Linked DNA regions of Homo sapiens: region 2 is linked to region 1. Evidence: fine-mapped expression QTL. A gene starts in region 1. The other region holds a variant in brackets. All regions are shown on one strand. Distances are from middle to middle. Region 1 holds the start of PDGFRB (platelet derived growth factor receptor beta). Region 2 overlaps CSF1R (colony stimulating factor 1 receptor).

The links. PIP is the estimated chance that this variant, and not a neighbour inherited with it, causes the effect.
Region 2: its variant is the best candidate, but not a certain one, in a credible set for the expression of PDGFRB in tibial artery (GTEx, PIP 0.59).

What each region holds. Positions count from the first base shown.
Region 1 is chr5:150,153,781-150,159,146 of GRCh38, reverse strand. PDGFRB (platelet derived growth factor receptor beta) reads left to right here and starts at 3,302. Exons shown (of 23, transcript NM_002609.4): 1 at 3,302-3,750. RefSeq lists an enhancer at 596-1,384.
Region 2 is chr5:150,063,195-150,068,560 of GRCh38, reverse strand. CSF1R (colony stimulating factor 1 receptor) reads left to right here. Exons shown (of 21, transcript NM_001288705.3): 10 at 231-346. Among named protein-coding and RNA genes, the nearest start is that of CSF1R, 21 kb to the left of the region's middle. RefSeq lists enhancers at 1-624, 1,551-1,600 and a silencer at 3,551-3,726. The variant T/C (reference allele first, on the strand shown) is at 2,529.

The DNA of each region.
Region 1 (5,366 bases):
TTGAGTGTGCCACCGTGCTGTGGGGGAAGGCAGTGTGGAACCCTAAGGCCCAGAGCCCCCCTCTCCCACTGTACCCCATCCCAGTCCACTTCAGGCAGGGCTCCCCACATTCCATGCTCTGCCCACCTACTCTCAGCCCAGGCTTCCCCAAGACAGCATTGTCCAAGGCTGGACTGGGTTCCCAGTATCTGTGTAGGTGTGAGGATGTTCATAGCTTGTCCTGTCCACAGTGGGGCTGGGGGCCATGCTGACCACCCCAGGGTGATGGTGCTGCACTGCCCATGTGCCCCGTCCATTGCCGCTGAAGGCAGAGTGCACAAGGGGAATCCAAGACCCAGAAAAGGGAGGCTCCGCCCAGGAAGACACAGTGATGGAATGCTGCTCGAATGAGGAAACTCACTATTTCAGTAATAGTGTACACTTAGTACACTTCGAGGCAATGTACTAAGTCCTTTGTACAAACCGAAGAGTCTTATGAATCAGTCTTTGACTTGTCTCCATTTTCCAGAGGAGGAAACCAAGGCCAGGAGTTTAAGTGACTTGCCTAAGCTCATGTAGCTTGAAACTGGAGCAGCTGGGATTCGAACCCAGCTCTATCTCTAGCTCTCCAACCTCCTCTGTCAATCATGACAATTTTGCCCCTTGGTGAGTGCCCTGGGTTGCTCCCTGTAGCTCTGCACCTCCCACCCATATCTCAGTTGAGAGGAGGAGTGACAGTCCTGGTGCCCACCAAGGGTTAATGGCAGTAGGGGCTAAGTAATTCCAGATGGGCCTCAGGACGGCTGGGCTGGCCGGAAACTGGAGGCCGCCAGCTTCCCAGGGGAGCCACCGCCAACTGCCCCTCCCCTTTGTGCTGCATCTCTGGCCCCAGCTGTACCCCTGCCCTAGGGCCCACCAGCCTCCTCTCCCTTGCTAGAGTCCAGCTCTAAGGGAAATTGCAGACGGACCATCCCAAGGGCCTTGTAGCACAGTGAGTCCACAACTGTTATGTACAAATAGGGAAACCGAGGCTCAGGCAGGGCAAGGGACTTATTCAAGTTCTCCTGATAAGTCTGTGGCTGGGTCTTCTGACTCCCAGACTAGCTTCTTTGGGGACTAGGGGGTTGGTGTGTCTCGTGGCCTCCCCCAGGCTGGCCTGGCTGCAGAGGGTCAGCCAAGGATTCAGAGGTGAATGGCCCAGGCAGATGCTAGGAGGGGAGTCGTAAATTTCTGACGGAATCTTTGGGCACAAGAAATCCCTGTGCAAGCCTGACCTTGTGGCCTGTGGGATCTTTTCACATTCCCCTATTTCCCTGTTGCCACAAAGACCTGGCCAGGCCCCCTCTCTCGGGGTACTCTTATGGTCCCCAACCCGTGGCTGGGAACCAGTCTGAGAACACTTCTCCTTCTATGTGGTCCAGCCCAGATGCTCTGCTGGGCAATCCCGATTGGGACTAGACCAAGAAATGCAAGATAGTTGACTGTGGTGGGCATGGAATCCCAGCTCACGCAAATCCTCTGCTCTGTGAACAGGGGTCTGGGGGAAGCTGAGGAGGAAAGACTTAGCGGCGCAGAGGGAAGGAGGGCAGAGCCAGCCTCTACCTGTGTCACCTGGGACAGCTTTCTTCACCCTCTGGAATTCAGTTGCCCTGTGGGTGCAGTAGTGGGAGCAGGGGTGGTAAGCCCACTCTATATGCCCTTCTAAAATAATGCCCTTTGCCATCTGAGGGCTAGGAGTCTGTAACTGGAGATGTCTTCTGATCTGAGAAGCTGAGGGTGGAAGAAGAGACCCAGCTGGGGGAACTGGAGGAGTCTTGGCAGACCCTGGTAGGAAAGGAGAGCCAGAGAATGGAAATGGAACAAAACGGATACTTGAAAGTATCTTGTTGAGGCTGGGTGCGGTGGCTCAAGCCTGTAATCCCAGCACTTTGGGAGGCTGAGGTGGGTGGATCATGAAGTCAGGGGTTTGAGACCAGCCTGGCCAACATAGTGAAACCCGGTCTCTACAAAAAATACAAAAATAGCCAGGTGTGGTGGTGTGCGCCTGTAATCCCAGCTACTTGGGAGTCTGAGGCAGGAGAGTCACTTGAACCTGGGAGGCGGAGGTTGCAGTGAGCCTAGACTGCGCCATTGCACTCCAGCCTGGGAGACAGAGCAAGACTCCATCTCAAAAAAAAAAAAAAAAAAAAAAAGAAAGTATCTTGTTGAGTGACTGAATGAAAGAGCCACAGGGGGAACCTAGGAAGAAAGCAGGGCAGGGGGTTCATCTACACTGGAATAGGGGTCTCGGGTGGGGGTCAGATGACTTGTGTCTCTTCCATCATGTGTCTCATGAGACCTAGTTCTGCCCCAGCTCTGCCATTGCTGCGTAAGCTTGGGAAGCTTATTTTGCTCCTCTGGGCCTCAGTGTCCCCATCTATAAAATGGGGCAAATAATCCTCTCCTTGCACCCCAGGGGCTTTGAGACGTGAAAAGGAATGTATCTGTCAATATCCAGAGATATCCAATCTGTGCTGGATGACCTTGACCAAATCACATTCCCTCTCTGTGCCAATTCACCCCTGGGCCTTGGTTTGTCCTTCTGAAAAACGGCTGATCATCTTGGAGGATCTTTCCATCTCCTCCATGTCACCTCTTCTCAGCAGTGCTCTCTGATTCTCTCAGGCTTCCGTTAGGGGTCCTTCTAAATGCACTCTCAGCCTCCTGTCTGCCGACCGGGCACCTGCTTGCCCAATGAATATCTTGCTCACTAGCCTGGTGCTTCTGAGGTCAGGACCACGTCTTGCTACTGTCCCCTGCACCCAGTACAGTGTTAGAATGTAGTAAATGCTCAGTATGCTTGTTCAATGAATGAAGGTTGACTGAATCAACCACAGAGATGATCAGAGTCTCCTTTACAGATGGGGAAACTGAGGCACTGAGAAATGATCTCCCTGGGTGCCATGGCAAGGGGAGGCCGCCACCCGACATGGGCATCGGGAAAGTGGGGCCGAGGCCACTCTTTGACAAAAGTGACTCAGCAGCTGGCGGCTGGCGTGGGCTGTGGAATTTCTAAGCATCCCCTCACATCCTGAGCGAACGGGCGATGGGAGGGAGTAAGCAGAGTGAAAAGAAGAAAAACAAGAAACTTGGGGGAAAAGAAAGAGAGAGGGGGAAAAAAACTGAAATTGAAAACAGACGCACGCGTCCACCCTCCCTGCCCCGCCGCCCCCCCTTCTCCCAGCTGGGCCAATCAGAAGCCACCCTGCAGCCTTTCCCCCAAAGTGGCGGGGGAAGTGGGGGGGCATGGAAGCCCATAGTGGTGTGAGCTCCTGAGGCTGCCAGCAGCCAGCAGTGACTGCCCGCCCTATCTGGGACCCAGGATCGCTCTGTGAGCAACTTGGAGCCAGAGAGGAGATCAACAAGGAGGAGGAGAGAGCCGGCCCCTCAGCCCTGCTGCCCAGCAGCAGCCTGTGCTCGCCCTGCCCAACGCAGACAGCCAGACCCAGGGCGGCCCCTCTGGCGGCTCTGCTCCTCCCGAAGGATGCTTGGGGAGTGAGGCGAAGCTGGGCCGCTCCTCTCCCCTACAGCAGCCCCCTTCCTCCATCCCTCTGTTCTCCTGAGCCTTCAGGAGCCTGCACCAGTCCTGCCTGTCCTTCTACTCAGCTGTTACCCACTCTGGGACCAGCAGTCTTTCTGATAACTGGGAGAGGGCAGTAAGGAGGACTTCCTGGAGGGGGTGACTGTCCAGAGCCTGGAACTGTGCCCACACCAGAAGCCATCAGCAGCAAGGTAAGTGCTGGAAAAAGTGGGAACCCCAGCCCCATGCCCTGTCCCTTTGCCCTAACCTGCATCTCTTCGAGTAGGTAAAAAAAAAAAAAAAAAAAAAAAGGGAAGATATTTTTAACAAAACAAGATGAGAGGAGGCTGGGAGACTGTGGGTGATGTCAGGGATGGAGGAGCCAGTTTTCTCCTTTCCCCTGCTCTGGGGTGAGTGGCCTCCACCTCATCATCCCTGCTGCTCCTGCCTTCATCAAACAATCCTCAGGGGTTTCTGGGTGCTGACTGGGGGCCTCCAAAGCACAGCACAGTCAATGGGGAGTGGGGAGAGCTGGGAAGAGCGGGAGAGGGGAATTGGGAGAAGGTAGGCAGGGTACACAGAAAGCAGGGGACTGGGGACCTCAGGACCATAGCCGCTGTTCCTTGGCCCAAGCCTTGTTTCTAAGAATCAGTCTGGCTTTAGGCCAGTCAGCCGCCAGGCAACCTCTGGGGATTTAAATGGATTTGCAAATTTTCTAGATTCTTAAGATATCCTTCTAAACCCCCAGCAGCTAGAAAAGTTTGAGGGCTAGGAAAGTTCGAGGGTGATGGGCGGCCATGGCAACCCCCTAGCGGTCATGCTGCTGGGTCTGGGGGCTGGGACCTGGCTGTCAGATCTGGGGGCTCCTCTGTGAAGAAGGGGTCAGCCACTGGGCCATTTCCTTTGGTCCCAGGCAGCTGCTCAGGCCTCCTCGTTGTCTCCCTCCTTCTGGACTCTACCCCTTCTCCATGCCATTCTAAAGCATAAATCCAATCACACCACCTCCCTGCCCAGGATCCGCCTATGGCTCCCCAGTGCCTGGAGAAAGTCCCAGCTCCTAACAGAGGCTGCCACTGCTTGACACTTACTGCACGCCGCAACTGTGCTGAGTGCTTTATGAGACTGATCTCATGTAATGCTCACCAGCAACCCCAGAGGCAGTGACTGTTTTTACCTCCGTTTTATACATGAGGAACTTGAGGCTCACGCAGCCACATAACTGTAGCCACACAGCTAGTAAGTGGCACAGCCTGGAGAGGTTGGAATCTCCCCGTGCCCCATTACTCCAAACTTGGGCCTTTTGTTCCCGCCAGTCAGATCCCAGAATTCCCAGAAGGAATGCGCACCATCCTGCTTGTGGGCATTTGCCCTCCCTCTTCCCCCTTTCTGGAATGCCCTTCCTCATCACTTTTCTTTCAGGGATATTCCATACACCACCTCTTCCAGGCAGCCTTCCTAGGTTCTTCCTGTCTTCCAAGTGCTAGCCATGCACTTTGTGCTGAAGCCATGTTACTTGGCCCTCCCCTGTTGGTGATCTGTTTATGTTCTGTTTGTTCATCAGAGATTGTTCAGGCCCCAGCAGTCAGAACTGAGGCCGCACTTTCTGCTGGGGAAAGGTTTAAGGTTTCCCCATCCTGTGCTCTTCCCCCAGTGCCCAGCCCTGGATAGGCAGTGCGGCTGAAAAAATGTCCTGGTGAAAGGGAGGAGGAGCTCACTGAAGACCTTCTGCTCCCAAGTGTGAGACTAGAACCCAGGCCTCCAGCCTTCTCACAGGTGCCCTTCCAGGACATCGTGTGGCTACTCCAGGCAGCATTCCTCCATTGCAAGC
Region 2 (5,366 bases), 91 kb after region 1:
CTCTGGACAGGGTTTGGGGCTGGGCATGAGCAGAGCTGAAGAGGCCGTCCTCTCTGCCTTTCTCGGGGAGGGTGTGCAGGAGAGGCTCCAGAGGCTTCCAGTGGAGGATGCTTCATTCAGTCAACAAGCATTTATTGAGCACCCACTGTGTTCCAGGCAGTGTGCAGGCCTGACCTCAGGGGGCTCGGAGGCACCCCTGCCTGCTCACTGCTTTGCTTCATGCCTTCCAGGAGCCCACACGCATCCCCCGGATGAGTTCCTCTTCACACCAGTGGTGGTCGCCTGCATGTCCATCATGGCCTTGCTGCTGCTGCTGCTCCTGCTGCTATTGTACAAGTATAAGCAGGTGAGCCGGAGCGGAGTGGGGCTGCCAGGTGCCTGAGTGAGCCAGATTTGGATGGTACCCCCAGGCTGCATGGATTCACCCTTCCTCCTCCTCAGTCAGTCCATCAGCTAACAGCTCTTTAGTGGGTGCCTACTGTATGCCAACATGAGTCAGCTGCTGGGTGGCCTCTGAGGCTCTGCCCTAATAGCGTTTACTGTCTAGTGCGAGAGACAGGTGCTAATCAAATAGCCATTAAAGCAAGGGCACACCTGTAATCCCAGCTACTTGGGAGGTTGAGGCAGGGGGATTGCTTGAGGCCAGGAGTTAGGGACCAGCCTGGGTGATACAGCCAGATCCCAGCTCAAAAAACAAACAAAAAGCCGTGAAAGCAAGAGCATGGATTATAGAGTGAGAGGCTATGAGGAGAGGAATGGCATTCTGAGGCAGCGCAGCCCTGGGATCCTGTCTCAGCCCAGGGGTGTCCTGGCACCCAGCACGGGGCAGAGGAAATGGATATACAAGCGTGGTGTCCCCTGGGCCAGGCCTGAGCCCTGCCCTAAGAAGCACATGGTCTAGTGAAGACGAGGGCCTGTGACCATCATCCTCTTCATTATTTCATGTTACTGTCCTATTAGCCAAAGCCACAATTTAGTGCATGTTGCGTATAGTGTGCTTCCTGTCACTGTCTGCTCAGTATATGACAGTGATTTGAGGGGCATTTTTCTATAGCATGTTACCTACATCATCTCATTTAATGCCCTCAGCAACCACTGTATGCAGCTAGCATTAGTCTGTTTTACAGAGTTGTAAACTGAGGTTCTGAGAGGTTGGGACAGTTGCCCTTGTCTACAGCTGGTCAAAGGCAGAGTCTGGTTTTTAACCCTGAAGGAGGACTCACTCCAAAGCATGTCCCAATCATTATGTGAAACATTGACTCATCTTATTTTACCCTCACAAGAAGCTGGAGGCAGGAAGTATACTAGTCAGTATCTTACCCATCAGGAAGCTGAGGCTCAGCAAGGTTAAAAAAAAAAACCCCAAGGGGCTGAGGGATAGGGTTGGCACTGGGCCCCAGGGGCTTCTGTCCCTAGAGCCCATGGCCTCCACTGCCTGCCTGCCCACACAAAGACCATGTGCAATGTGATCAGAAGCTGAGAGGACCAGGCCAGAGGGCTGTGGGAGTTCAGAGGTGGACGGACTTTTCAGGCTGGTGGGTAAGGGAGACTGCCTGGAGGAGGTGGCTTGGCATTGGTGGGACGGGCTTTGGAGGATGAGGATGCAGCAGGGGAGATGACACTAAGGGAAAGGGTACCTCTGGGGGAGAGGGCAGAGTGTGCAGAGGTGCAGGTGAGGGAAGGACCAGGGTGGGGTTGGGGGTCTGAAGGGTTGGACCCCACCCTGTCGGTCCAAGGCCATCAGTGGGTTTGAACAAGGGAGTGGTGTGATCAAGGACTGAATGACCCATCTTGTGTCCCCTTGGCTACCTTTTCTTCCCCACACCCCCTTGGGGCTTTTGTGAGAAGAGGGCTTGAAGTGGGCAGGGTGGGAAGGATGTTGGGGGAGCCCCAGGGGCACATGGATCGGGATCTCTACTCCTGCCAGCACTCAGCATGAGAAGGCTGCTCTGAGGGCAGCCCCGGTCAATACCTCCGGATCTAGGTCCAGCTCTGACACTGTTTTGCCATGTAACCTCAGCTGACTCGCTGTCCTCTCTGGGCCTTAGTTTCCCCTCTTATACCATGGGTCTGGGTGTTCTCTAACAGCCCCTCCTCCTCTGACATGCCAAGAGCCCACTGGTGGTCTAGTTTAAGCACCAGAAACTTGGACTTCAGTGAATCTGGGTCCAAATCCTGCCTCTGCCAAGCTCTGGCTATGGGATGATGAGAAAGTTGGTGTGTCTGAGTCTCTTCTCCATTTGTAAAATGGGATCATTAACAGCCTGTTGTGAGGGATTCCGTACCACAACGCACATAGAGGACTGAGCGGGGTGCTGGACGAGACAGTCTCTGTGATGGGAGCTGCACACTCTTGTCCCAGGAGGAAGTTCGTTGGGGAACCAGAGTTAGCTCATGCCTCTTGGGATGGTGGAAGGAGGGGGAGGTCTGAGGTCGGGCATCATCTCCTTGACTACACACCCAAAGCGGTTGTTTGGCCCAGCCCACCCACCTCCAGGGACAGGACCTTACTCACTCTCGGGGCCACC[T/C]GTTCCTTCTCTGAGCAGCTCCAATGTTTGCAAAGTTCTTCCTTACATGGAACTGAAAACTGCCTCGCAGTGCCCACAGAGCTGCCAGGACAGTCATGCAGAGATTCCAGAGAAGAGCCTAGGGCCCCCTGCGGCCCTTTCTGCCTTGGGCTGGCCAGCCCCCTTGGCTGTGGTTTAGGAACTCTGTATCCCCTCTCCACGGGACCATTTTTGGAACATGTCACCTCCACACTTCCTGTCCAGGAAATTCAGCTGCCCCTGGAGCCCATGCAAGGCTGCGAGAAGACTTGCAGCTACCCTCCTCCCCTACACCCATTCACAGACCCTTTAGCTCCAGGCCGAGGTGTCCACCCATGGGAGCGGAGGGGGCAGGATGGTCATGCCCGTGCTAAGTGCCTGCCCTCCCATCCTCCTCTGCCTTGCCCCATGAGGTTCGGAGCCTTGCCCCTTCACTGGGGACTCAGCCCAGCCTCTCCTCATTGCCCAGGCCTGGGGAAAGAAGTGGCCTGTCTGTGGGGAGTGTTTGTTCTGCCTCAGGGCTGAATCATCACCTTTCTGTCCCCCAGAGTGACCACAAGGGGGGCCGTGGGGGAAGAGAAAAGGGCAGGAGTCAGCAGGCTCCCCTGGAGGAGGAGGCGCACAGGGAAATGGCTGAGGCAGCAGGGAAGGGAGGGTCCAGGGAGGCTGCTGGAAAGACTACGATTCTGGGGGCTGGAACTGAGCTCTGAGGAGCAACAGGAGGGTCCCCAAAGATTCCACTGGGAATTGTTCAGATCTCCACCTTCCTGGGATGGAGAACATCCACTCACCCAGAACCAGCAGGCCTAGATGGGGAGGGGACCGGGACTTTGTCTCCATGCCCCCTTTGGTGGGGAGGATGGGAGGAAGGGAAGAAGTCAGGGGGTGGGCCTGGGGCTTAGGCCCATTGCAAGGAATGAATGGGGTGATGTGCTTCAAGCATCTAGCCCAGCGCCCCACTCCCAGGAAGAGCTCAGGAAGAACCCGCTGCCATCATGACAATTACGTCCACCCTTCTCAGGGAGCCTCGCCCATCCCCACCTCTTGATCTCTCACTCATAGTTCTTTGGAAGAGAGGCTGCCTCTGGGTAGACGCCCATGAGCCCTTTCCAGGGATGGCACAGGTGCCCTGGGAGGTTTACATGCCCAGCAGGGGCAGGGGAGGGTTCCTGAGGCAGGCAGAAGGCAGCTTGGTCCGCTTCCAGAAATTAGGAGCCTAGGATTCAGAAATCTGAGAATCCAGCCAAACCTCCATCCTCCTTGATCCCCTCCCTTTCAACAGTGCCCCCTGCCCAGCTGGGGGCAGGGAGGGGCTGACTCAGCCCAGCTGCAGAGGGACAGAGGAACAAGAAGTGGTAAGAAAAAACAGTCTTAGCCACAGAGGCTCCTAGAGATGGAAGTGGCCAGGAGAGGCTGAAGAATCCCCTCCTTGCCTTGTTGCTGTCTTTTGGGCTGGGAAGGCACCCACGGGCAGGATTTGGATCCTCAGAGGCTTGGGAAGTTCTTCTCCCTGGGTCCCGTTTCAGACTCTCTCCCAAGCTATAACGCAGAGGCTCTGAAGTTCACCTGCAGTCCGCCCTTCCGAATCAGAGCCTGGAAGTTAGTTCCTTCTCATTTCTAATTGCAGTCTTTTCTCTCTAACTACCAGCTAGAAGTTCTTCCTGATGGTTAGCTGGAAGCTTTCTCCCTGTCTCTCTCTTTAAAAATGTCCACATTTTATTTTTGATTCAGGGGATAGACGTACAGGTTTGTTGCATGCGTATGTTTCGTGATGCTGAGCTTTGGAATATGGATCCCATCACCTGCTACTGAGCATAGCTCCCATAGTTTTTCAACCCTCGCCCGCTTCCACCCTCCCTGCTCTAGTAGCCCCCAGTGTCTGTTGGTGCCATCTTTATGCCCATGCACACTCAATATTTAGCTCCCACTTATAAGTGAGAACATGCGGTATGTAGGTTTTCTGTTTCGGTGTTAATTTGCTTAGGATAATGGCCTTCAGCTGCACCACGTTGCTGCAAAGGACATGACTGGAATCTTCTCTCTCAACCAGGACTTGCAGCTAAAGGCCAGCCTCCTCCCTAGCACCGGTCCACACTTCCTTTAAGTTTCTAGCTCGGGTGCCCAGGGAAGGAGCCCAGCTGCAGGCACAGCCAAGCTTGTCCCATCCCCAAGGCCTGGCCGGAAAGAGTTGCTCTGCTGACCCAGGGCCTCAGTGTCCTCCACCGCCCCAGCCCAGCTTCCACTTTCCCCCTCAACTTGGTCTTCCATCAGCATTTCTTGTGGGCAACCCTTAGCATGGTACTCCCCCTCAGCAGCTGACCCCTGGGCAAGAAACAGGGGCAGCCATTCCTCCTCCCCACATCCCAGGGCTTGCCTCCCCTGGCTGGGTGGTAACAGCATGGAGAGCCTAAGGAAGGAAATCAGGTCTTTCCAAAGGTGCTGGTCCTCCAGAATCTATCTAGTGGGCAGCGTCTCTCTTTCTCTCTCAAAAAGGTAAAGTCAAGGCTGGGTGCGATGGCTCACGCCTATAATCCCAGCACTTTGAGAGGCCAAGGCAGAAGGATTGCTTGAGCCCAGGAGTTTGAGCCTAGTGAGCTATGATCGTGCCACTGCACTCCGGCATGAGTGAAGGAGCAAGACTCTGTCTCAAAAAAAAAAAGTCAGATGGCGACTCACCTGTGTCAAACTCTCAGGGTCTCTCACTGCCCGGCCAGGCATGGTAGCTCATGCCTGTAATCCCAGCACTTTGAGAGACCGAGGCAGGCAAACTGCTTGAGCTCACGAGTTCAAGACCAGCCTAGGCTGCGACAAAGCCCCGTC